Homo sapiens: one gene and its partners. The protein of the gene in region 2 purifies or fractionates together with the protein of the main gene of each other region. This does not show direct contact. Each region holds a gene or a part of one and is shown on either strand. Other genes may lie near its edges. The genes, in order: BMPR2, SLC16A5 and ROBO1.

What was found.
Region 1: the proteins of SLC16A5 (region 2) and BMPR2 purify together in Homo sapiens (affinity purification with mass spectrometry; one large-scale study listed by BioGRID and IntAct). This does not show direct contact.
Region 3: the proteins of SLC16A5 (region 2) and ROBO1 purify together in Homo sapiens (affinity purification with mass spectrometry; one large-scale study listed by BioGRID and IntAct). This does not show direct contact.

The regions. Positions count from the first base shown.
Region 1 is NC_000002.12:202,561,272-202,564,888, forward strand, and holds part of BMPR2 (bone morphogenetic protein receptor type-2 precursor), read left to right. Parts: 3' UTR 1-3,617. UniProt on the Homo sapiens protein: On ligand binding, forms a receptor complex consisting of two type II and two type I transmembrane serine/threonine kinases.
Region 2 is NC_000017.11:75,094,418-75,098,073, forward strand, and holds part of SLC16A5 (monocarboxylate transporter 6), read left to right. Parts: intron 1-3,620; coding exon 3,621-3,656. UniProt on the Homo sapiens protein: Proton-linked monocarboxylate transporter.
Region 3 is NC_000003.12:78,665,845-78,669,500, reverse strand, and holds part of ROBO1 (roundabout homolog 1 isoform a precursor), read left to right. Parts: intron 1-935; coding exon 936-1,017; intron 1,018-1,198; coding exon 1,199-1,367; intron 1,368-1,451; coding exon 1,452-1,618; intron 1,619-3,656. UniProt on the Homo sapiens protein: Receptor for SLIT1 and SLIT2 that mediates cellular responses to molecular guidance cues in cellular migration, including axonal navigation at the ventral midline of the neural tube and projection of axons to different regions during neuronal development.

The DNA of each region.
Region 1 (3,617 bases), on a different chromosome or scaffold from region 2:
AATCCTATTTTCATAATTTTTCCTTTTGCCAGTTTTTCACATTATCTTTGATATGTGAGCAACATTTATTATTTACATTAGAGTATACCTTTTAGTAATAAAATGACTTGAAATCATATTATTTTTAAAAGCCCTTTGCTTCTTTCATTACTTATAATCTCCTCTAAAACAACCTCTGCATGTTTTTTTTAAATAAAGCACTTTCTGTCAAATAATGGACTTTTTTCTAAACAGAAATTATTTTCTATTAATTTGCAAACTGATGATTTCACTTTTTTTTACTTTTTTTTCGATTATCAGAGTACTTAGTAAATGTTATATAGTTTAGTTCTAAGATAGTTCCAGGGATTAAAAGGTTAAGAGGAAAACACAAATCACCAAATTTCTGATTTATGTTTTTATCTCCTGAACAATATTTTCTCACTCATATTCCTCTATCTTATCACTTAGCTAAAGACAGCCTAAATTTCCCAATTTTCTGTCCAAAATATTTGTGATTTACTTGTATATAAGCCTTCTCATTTGCCATGTGCTGTGATCTTACAAGTTAGATGTTACTATACCTACCATTTATTCAGCTGGATTGCTGAACACAGTTCTGGATTCATAGAATTAAGAATATCTTGTTAGTGCCCAGGATTTCCACGTTTTGTGTTTTATTGGCCCTTTTCTTTATTCAGCCCCTTAATCTATTTTCAGTCTTCTGGCACGTAATTTTTTTCACAGTTATTATTCTTCTATTAACAAATTATTTTTATCTTTCCTAGTACATTTTCACTTAGTTCTCTTGCCCTTAAATATCTTTCACATGCATTTTAGGATATTCTTTTCAAATATTTGTAGGACAACTTTGAATCAAAATAAATTATGTTCCTTCTCCAATTTGAAGCATTGAGGATAAATGACCATTTGAGGTCTAACTGATCTTTTCCTGCCAGAAGAGTTATCTTACGTTCTGCTATATTTGTATTTGGGCCAGTTGATTGTAGGTTGTCCAACATTTTTTAATATTGGGAAAATTATGATAAAATGCTTTAAAAATTAATATGCCAGATTAAAATAACTGAATAGTTTACTATTTCATTCAAGCATGTTTAAAACAAATAATTTCCTTTCACCAGTTTTTCTTAGTAAACTCCTGAAAAAGTAGGAAAGGTGGAAAGTATATATCATTTTTATAAATTTTAAATTGTACATCAGACTTTTAAAATCTGTAATATACAAGCAAGCAAAATTATTTTAAATGACTTAATTGTATGCTAATACTCATCTGATAATAAATGCTTCTTAAAGTTGACATTTAACTGCTATCACAAAGTTTTATATGTAGAAAAGTGGGGTCCTTTTGAATAAAAGATCATTCAACTAAAAATATTAAAATTTATTTCACTGGATGGTAATGTAACCTTAAAAGCATCATAATAGGTAAAGTCTAATATTAGTTCCCTTAACAAAATCCTAACTGTATACCAGAATTAGGTCACTGAAAGAACTTGATTTGAATTACGTTTAGACAAAAATGATTTAATTGTAAATTCTTAAAACTTTCTAAATGCATAATTGGCAAAAAAAAAAACCCACTGTTACCAGTGTAGGAAGTTACAAGAAGGCACATACTGAATGCTGAAGTATACATATGCTATTTCTCTTAAACCTCAGAGCAACCATATGAGCATTGTAATTAATATTCCCATTTTACAGATGAGGAAACTGAAGCTAAGAGAAGCTAAGTAATATGCCCAAGGTCCACATCTAGTAACAGACAAAGCTGGGATTTCAGTCTATGTCTGCCTCTCTCCACATCTCTTTCATCCATACCACACTGCCTACATGCCATATGACAGGATGTGTAATGGGCTAACGTTTATTTAAAAAGTTCAGGCCAGGTGCAGTGGCTTATGCCTATAATCCCCGCACTTTGGGAGGCCGAGCCGGGTGGATCATGAGGTCAGACGTTCAACACCAGCCTGGCCAAGATGGTGAAACCCCGTCTCTATTAAAAATATTTTTTAAAAATTAACTGAGCGTGGTGGTGGGCGCCTGTAGTCCCAGCTACTCAGGAGGCTAAGGCAGGAGAATCTCTTGAACCCGAGAGGTGGAGGTTGCAGTGAGCTGAGATCGCGCCACTGCACTGCAGCCTAGGCGACAGAGCAAGACTGCCTCAAAAAAAAAACATAAAAATTCAGTCACTATACTCTGGCACAATTTTCATTTGTATATGAGCCAAACCACATACCTTAATGATTTGGGAAGTTAGGCAAATATGAGATATGTAGACATATCTATGCTGATTGTTGCTTGAGAAATAATTACTAATTCTAGACAAAACTCAATCCTGTATCTTCCATCATGAATCTTAAAATCATTTCACTTCACTCCTAACATTTCTTACATTGCAGAACTAATGGTAAAGTAAATTTTACGGAAAAAGTTAAGATAGCTTTGGGAACAGAGACCTTTCCCTAAATTGATTCCATAGCAGATTTGGGGGAATTAACAAAGAATTTCAGTCTCATCAATCCTTTGAATCCATCTTCAAAACTTCTGCTTTTAATAACTTTAGAAAATTTACTAATCTATAGAACTAATTGAGTAGGATATAGGAAGGATACAAGGATATAATGTCCTTTTTATAAAAGTTTAGTATAGCTTCTTTACATGTATCCACTTGTTCCAGAAAATGTGCATTGGTTCTGAATGTGAAAATATTTAAAGAGAGAAAGGAACACTCAAGTAAGTGTGGGCTTCAGTGGGAATTATCACAAAACATTGGCAAGTATTTTTATTTAAATTATTTTCAAATTTGACTTCTACAGCCAAGTGGAATTGGTAGGCTGTAGCTGTTACACTGAAATTTCTAGTCTTTGTAAGTGCCTCCTGAAAGTCATTTAAAATGGAAAAATATTTCAATGAGCTTTTCCTTTTTTCATATTTATGGACATGAATATTTTATTGGAGATCATTAACTCCTAGAATTTGAGATTATATTTCCATACAACATTTTATAAAGTTATGTTGAACTTACTACCTGTTATGTGCAGGTTATTATGTAACTATTCACAGATTGCTTCATATATTGCTTTATCTTCCCATCTAACTTCTTAAAGTTAAAATCCGGACACACATGTTGATTATCTAGACCAGTCATTCTGGAAATTGTAACACTCCCACATAAACCCCAGGAGACTTTTTCAGAATGCAATGTTTCTAAATGTACTGTTACTGGCAGTTTACTCTCCAGCATATAAGGTTGCATTTTAACTTTTAGATTATGAACTGTGCAAACTTTACCCAAAACTATCTTGCATGATTCCCTCCTAAATATATTCCTTGATTAAGTAAATCTGGCAAATCACTGTTTGAGCTAGTTACATAAAATTTGTTATCAAGAGAAGGCTTTTCTACAAGTTTCCAGATTAACATAAAGAAAAGAGGGAATCACAGGGCATTTAAGTGCACCTTCCCATTACTTTCCTTAAATCACCTCATAGTTAGGCTGGGCGCGGTGGCTCACGCCTGTAATCCCAGCACTTTGGGAGGCCGAGACGGTGGATCACGAGGTCAGGGGACTGAGATCATCCTGGCTAACACGATGAAACCTCATCTCTACTAAAAAT
Region 2 (3,656 bases):
GGCTTACGCCTGTAATCCCAGCACTTTGGGAGGCCGAGGCGGTCAGATCACCTGAGGTCGGGAGTTTGAGACCAGCCTGACCAACATGGAGAAACCCTGTCTCTACTGAAAATACAAAATTAGCTGGGCGTGGTGGCGGGTGCCTGTAATCCCAGCTACTCAGGAGGCTGAGGCAGGAGAATCTCTTGAACCCAGGAGGCAGAGGTTGCGGTGAGCTGAGATGGTGCCATTGCACTCCAGCCTGGGCAACAAGAGTGAAACTGTCTCAAAAAAAAAAAAAGACACCAGGAACAAGAGGGGGACAAGGCAGGAGCCCCAGCTCTCCCGGGACTCCCTGCAGAGAGGAGGTTGCTAAGTGGGGGTGAGGGAGGAAGGCAGCCCCTGTCTGCCCCTTCTCCTGGCTCTGTCACCATAGGCCTCAGAGGCCCATGTTCCTGGCTGGCTTTTCCAGGAGTGTGACTGCCTCACCCTGACCCCAGCGTTGGGAGCAGGGCAGAGGGAGGGTTCTCTGCAGTCGCCGTGGACACAGGGACCTGCCCTCAGCTCCTGGGAGCTCTCCAGGGAGACTGCAGAGACCCCGGCCTCGGAGGGGCCCGGTGGACAGCAGCCCGAGCTGATGGCCCACAGGCCTCTGCAGGCGTGTGTCTGCTGGCCGCAGCTGCCCATCTCCCCGGCTACCTCCTGGCTACTCCCTCCACTTGCCACCAGCAGCCTGCCTATTATTCCAGGTCCTGCCCTCAAACTGGGAGGGAGGTGAGGCTCGGAGAAAGCGCCACCCTCCTGGGTGAGCTCTGAATCTGCCACATGGCCTCTGGCCTGCAGGGTTGGGGCAGGGAGTGGGAATCCCAGAGGGCTGCTTCTCACACAGGCAGAGCAGGGTTCCTGGGCCAGGGGCTAGGAACCGGGCACCCGGCGGGGAACCTACTCCCCAGCTGACTTGCGGCTCACCACCCCCAGCAGGCATCTCAGCATCTCCATCAGCATGGGATTCCTGGCTGGCCATCTCTCTCATGTACACATACACGTGTATGAGCCCGTGCTCATTCAGAGTACTGTAGACATTTTATTTTATGTTTATTTATTTATTTGCTTATTTTTGAGACAGAGTCTCACTCTGTCACCTGGGCTGGAGTGCAGTGGCATGATCACAGCCTATTGCAGCCTTAACCTCTCAAGCTCAAGCGATCCTGCCACCTCAGCCTCCCGAGTAGCTGGGACCACAGGTGTGCACCACCACACCCAGCTAATTTTTTTTTTTTTTAGATGGAGTCTCGCTCTGTTGCCCAGGCTGGAGTGCAGTGGTGCAATCTCAGCTCGCTGTAACCTCCGCCTTCCAGGTTCAAGCGATTCTCCTGCCTCAGCCTCCTGAGTAGCTGGGACTACAGGTGCGCACCACCATGCCTGGCTAATTTTTTGTATTTTTAGTAGAGACGGGGTTTCACCGTGTTAGCCAGGATGGTCTCGATCTCCTGACCTCATGATCTGCTGGCCTTGGCCTCCCAAAGTGCTGGGATTACAGGTGTGAGCCACCACGCCCAGACCATACCCAGCTAATTTTTTTACTTTTTGTAGAGACGGGGTCTCACTATGTTGCTCAGGCTGGTCTCAAACTCCTGGGCTCAAGTGATCTACCTGCCTGGGCCTCTCAAAATGCTGGGATTACAGACATGAGCCACGGCACCTGACCACAGTATTGTAGAAATTTTTAAACACGATGAATCATGGATACTTTCACTGATCCTTTCAAGTGCCCCTGCCCCTACCTACGCCTTTTAGAGGTAAGGAAAGCAAGCAGGCACAGAACACAAGACCTGCCCAAGGCTGAAGAGTGAGTTCACGGCAGAGGAAACACCCTGTGTCCCGCCCGGCCACACCACCCTCAGCTATGCAGCTCTGGCCTGCAGCCCAGTCCCCACCCCCACCCCTGTGACTAAGGGCTTTCCCCAATGTCAACTTCCCTAAGTCAGGCCAGAGTCTCTGGCGTGAGGAAGCTCTGTGGGTCAGTCCTCTCCAGAGCCACCTCCCCCTCTACAGGGGCAGAGACGCCGGGCCACCAGCCTCTGCTTGATTATGTCTGCGACGGGCTGCTCACTTAGTCTGTCACTTGCTTTTTTCTTTTTTTTTTTTTTCGGAGATGGAGCCTCCCTCTCTCACCCAGGCTGGAGTGTAGTGGCACAGTCTCGGCTCACTGCAACCTCCACCTCCCGGGTTCAAGCGATTCTCCTGCCTCAGCCTCCCTAGTAGCTTGGAATTACAGGCATGCGCCACCACACCTGGCTAATTTTTGTATTTTTAGTAGAGATGGGGTTTTACCATGTTAGCCAGGCTGGTCTCGAACTCCTGACTTCAGGCGATCCACCTGCCTCGGCCTCCCAAAGTGCTGGGATTACAGGCGTGAGCCACCACGCATGGCCACTCCATCACTTTTTTTTTTTTTTTTTTTTTTTGAGATGTAGTTTCACTCTGTCGCCCAGGATGGAGCGCATCGGGTTCTGCCTCCCAGGTTCAAGCGATTCTCCTGCCTCAGCCTCCCAAGTAGCTGGGATTACAGGCACGCACCACCATGCCTGGCTAATTTTTGTATTTTTAGTAGAGATGGGGTTTCACCATGTTGGTCAGGCTGGTCTCGAACTCCTGACCTTAAGTGATCCACCCACCTCGGCCTCCCAAAGTACTGGGATTACAGGCGTGAGCCACCACACCCAGCCTACTCTGTCACTTTTATACTCACACTGGCTCACACCACACATCCCCCCTCCACCGCAGACACACACAAGCATCTCATGCGCACACACTTCCCTGTCCCTTTAGTTGCACTCTCGGAGAGTAAGTTAGAGAAGCTCCACATGTGCTTGGGTGAATGGGGCCCCTGTGAGGTGCCAAGGAGCAGTCTGCAGCTCTTTTCTATTTTTTTGGGGTGTGGATTGGTGAGAAAGCAGCTGGGAGCCAGGCAAGGAACAGGCCCCCCTCCACATTGAGCCAAACCTCTAGGTGCAGACTTTGGTGGTGCTGGAGGTGGTGTGGGAGGGGAGAACCTACCCTGCCTGATTGTCTGCAGAGGCCAGTGCAAGGAGGCGCAGAGGGGCCCAGGGTTCCCCTCAGCTGTAGGGCTGGGAAGGTGGTGGGAGGGTGGGAGGGATCTAGCCAGTCTTCCTGAGGATGTTGGGTGTGGGGATGGGGCAGGTAAAACAGGATCTGAAGGTGCACACTGTAGTCTAGATGTCCTGGAACACTGCCCCGACTCCTCCCACCAACAGACCCCCAGCGAAGTGGGGGAGGTAAACTCATGAACCAATCCTGTTTCACCCGGATAGAATGAGCAGCCTCAGGTCTGTGTAGTTCAGGGTCTTGCTCCACCTTTCAGGGAATCCTCATCAGGGTCAAACATCGCCCATTCTGAATCCTCACTTTGTAGGGGAAAAAATTGAGGCACGGAGAGGGATCAGGCTTTGCTCAGGCCACATGGCCAGTCCATGGCAGGTGGGTATCAGAATCCAGGCCTGCTCGTGCCCTTGAAACCACCTGGCTAGTTCCAGCTGGAACTGCCCTCTCCAGCCACTCTCCTCCTCTCCCGCCACCTCCTCATTCAGCTGCTACCTGCTGGCTGTCTTCTCCCACAGGGCCCCTGTGCAGCATCCTGGTGGGACGCTTCGGCT
Region 3 (3,656 bases), on a different chromosome or scaffold from region 2:
CTTCTTTTTTTATGTCAAGATCAGACGAGCTCCTGAGGCATATGAAAGAATAGTCCTGACAGCAATAAACATGAATTTCAGTTGCTTTATCTCCTAGTGTGGGTGGTTCCTTTGGAGTATTGGATCAGCATCACAGTTCACTTTAAGTGCCACAACAGTTAATATGTTGTGCTGCTTTGTGACTGTTGTGACTTGGTTCCTGCAATTGCCAGGGCAAGATGACAACATTCTTTCTTTATCAAATGTTACTTGAAGATAGTTATTAGCTTGAGCAGAAGTAGATGGGTTTATTATCCTGCTGCTGATTTCAAAGTTGAACATGTAACCTATGTTTGCCTTCTGACATTCAGTTTTTAAAAGGGAGCGAGAGTGTTCGTTCCAGCTTGAGTTTGGCTTTGTACTTCTTAAACTGCCTTAAGTTACAAGTTTTAAAACCCGGAAAAGTCAGTAGTTTAAGAAAAAAATTCTATGATGCCTATCCTTTTTCTGTTGATCTCATATATCCATATAGTTAAATATATAAGTAAAATATGAAATAGCAAGAATAGGCATTGGTTAAACTTTATCAGCCTTATTATATAACTTATTAAACATAAAGATATATCTTAGCCATAAATATTAACGCTCTAAATTTGAAGAATTGTATGCCTTACCTTAGGAATTATTGTCCCTGAGACTGATGATAATATATGCTAATGCAATTAAATATTTCTTATTATACCATTAGAACAATCATATAAAATCTTTTTTTCTATATTGATGTAATATTTTCCTTCACATTCAATAAAAATATATTCAACTAAGGGGAAGTTTCTGGTTAGTGAATTTTAATGCAGTTATCCATATTCATGGATCATATACAAACCTGTAATTGCTTTTCCAGCCCAGTGAGTTCTTGATTTTTCCAAATATTTATTTTTTGTCTGCCTTCTCAGCTGGGTGATACTGGTCGGTACACCTGCATTGCATCAACCCCCAGTGGTGAAGCAACATGGAGTGCTTACATTGAAGTTCAAGGTAAAGTAAATGGTGTGTTTCCCTTAAAGTGAAGCTTAAAATGCAGTTGTTTACTTACTGGGATATTGATGAAGTAAATGTCCTCTTCCCTGAGTAGGTGTATGAATATGTTATCTGCATTTATCCGCTTATCTGTGTATGTGTAAACATCTTTTATTTTGGCCTTTTTCCTGCTTTTTAGAATTTGGAGTTCCAGTTCAGCCTCCAAGACCTACTGACCCAAATTTAATCCCTAGTGCCCCATCAAAACCTGAAGTGACAGATGTCAGCAGAAATACAGTCACATTATCGTGGCAACCAAATTTGAATTCAGGAGCAACTCCAACATCTTATATTATAGAAGCCTTCAGGTAGAGTGAAGGAGATGCTTCCTAGTTGTTCTTTTTTGATTCTCCATTAAATACGCATGTTCTAACCTGTGTGTCTATCCTTAGCCATGCATCTGGTAGCAGCTGGCAGACCGTAGCAGAGAATGTGAAAACAGAAACATCTGCCATTAAAGGACTCAAACCTAATGCAATTTACCTTTTCCTTGTGAGGGCAGCTAATGCATATGGAATTAGTGATCCAAGCCAAATATCAGATCCAGTGAAAACACAAGGTAAATATTGATTTACTTAAACCTGTGACACCTACTTATCCTTAGATGTTATAATTGCACTGACAAATCACTTGTGCTACATGCTAGAATTGTACATTTACAGTGTGTTGTTCAAGTTGCCCAAGTTGCTTAATTAATTTTTAATATACAAACACAATGTCTACAAACTTTATTATTTTCTGGACTAAGCATACCAACATAAGATGGATTAACAAAGAGAACTGTTTCTCATAAAATTACAAATATATCAAGACAAAAATATTACGTGAGGAGATGGAAAGTAGAATGATGGTTACCAGAGGCTGGGAAGGGTAGTAGGGTGGCTGTGGGGAGGGTGGGGATGGTTAACGGGTACAAAAAAAAGAATAGTTAGATCTAATGAATAAGATCTAGTATTAGATAGCAACAAGGTGACTGCAGTCAATAATAATTTATTGTACATTTTTAAATAAAGTATAACTGGAATGTTTGTAACACAAACAAAGGATAAATGATTGAGGTGATAGATACCCCATTTACCCTGATGTGATTATTATGCCCTGTATGCCTATATCAAAATACCTCATGTACCCATAAATATATACACCTGTTAGTACCCATAAATTTTAAAAATATGTGAATATTTGTGTATTCTATTCAATTTCCTGAATTTTAAATATGGTAACATGTAGGTGTACAATCTTAATCATATTATAATTGTATTTAAAATTAACCAAATTTTATTTATTTATAAGTTCAGTACTCACAACCTTCTGGATGAATTTTTAGATTACAACCCTAATCAAATAATACTCTCTTGAGATCACATAAATATGAGAGATATCTGGATACCTTTTATTTTTGGAAAAAAATCACGTCATTGTAAATAAAATGTGCTTGTTTTTATATTAGTAAAGAAAGGTAATTCTAGAGGGGAGTGATTCGAACTATAAAATTATTTTCTCAACATACAGAGGGATAGTGTTTCTATCTTAAGGGAACAAAGGAAAAAAGAAAAAAAAATAGACTTGGTTATTTTAATAGAAACAAGTTATACACAAGATGACTGAGACTTAAAGTCCTTTGCTGCTGGTTTGGGAGAGGGGTCTGCCAGCCATGTTGCTGTTTTGTTACTTCAAGTATGTACAGAAACAGTCTTTTTGGAAGCACTTTTTGTTTCAGAATTTGCAGAAAAAGCACACCAAGTTGTAGAACATGCCCACGTTTGTCTCTTGTGTGAATGTAACACACCCATAGCTCATATTTGCTATTATGAATCACCTCTCCAGGAGCTTTACTATACTTGCAGCCTGCCTTAAGGCAGTCTGAGGTTTTTGATATTAGATACACATTTGTAAAGAATGTAGACCCAATGATAGCTATAAAATGAATTTAAACTTTTGTCCCCAGTACAGTGGTCTCCAGCCAGTAGACTCTAACTGAAAGGTTTTGATGACTAGAGCTTAACACCGTTTTGTCCTGTACTCACATGCATGATTCTGGAATATGTAACCTCATTTGTAAGTGAGCAGTAAGTTAGCATTCTGTCTGAACATTCATTTAGTCTTTTTAACATTTCTGTCAATTTGCCTTTGCATATGCATAGCTAGTGGAACAATGTATTAGTCTCTTCTCACGCTGCTAATAAAGAACTTCCCCGAGACTGGGCAGTTTATAAAGGAAAGAGGTTTAATTGACTCACAGTTCAGCATGGCTGGGGAAGCCTCAGAAAACTTACAATCATGGCAGAAGGGGAAAGAAACACGTCCCGGTTCACATGGTGGCAGCAAGAGGTGCCGAGCAAAAGTGAGCAAAGCCCCTTATAAAACCATCGGGTCTCCTGAGAACTCACTCACTATCACGAGAACAGCAGCACGGGGTAACTACTCCATGATTCAGTTACCTCCTACCGAGACCCTCCCGTGACACATGGGGATTAGGAGAACTACAGTTCAAGATGAGATTTGGGTGAGGACACAGCCAAACCACATCACTCTAAGTATAATGAATCCTTGTTAACTGGAATACTGGAAATATAGAGAAACAGGCATACAGTTGT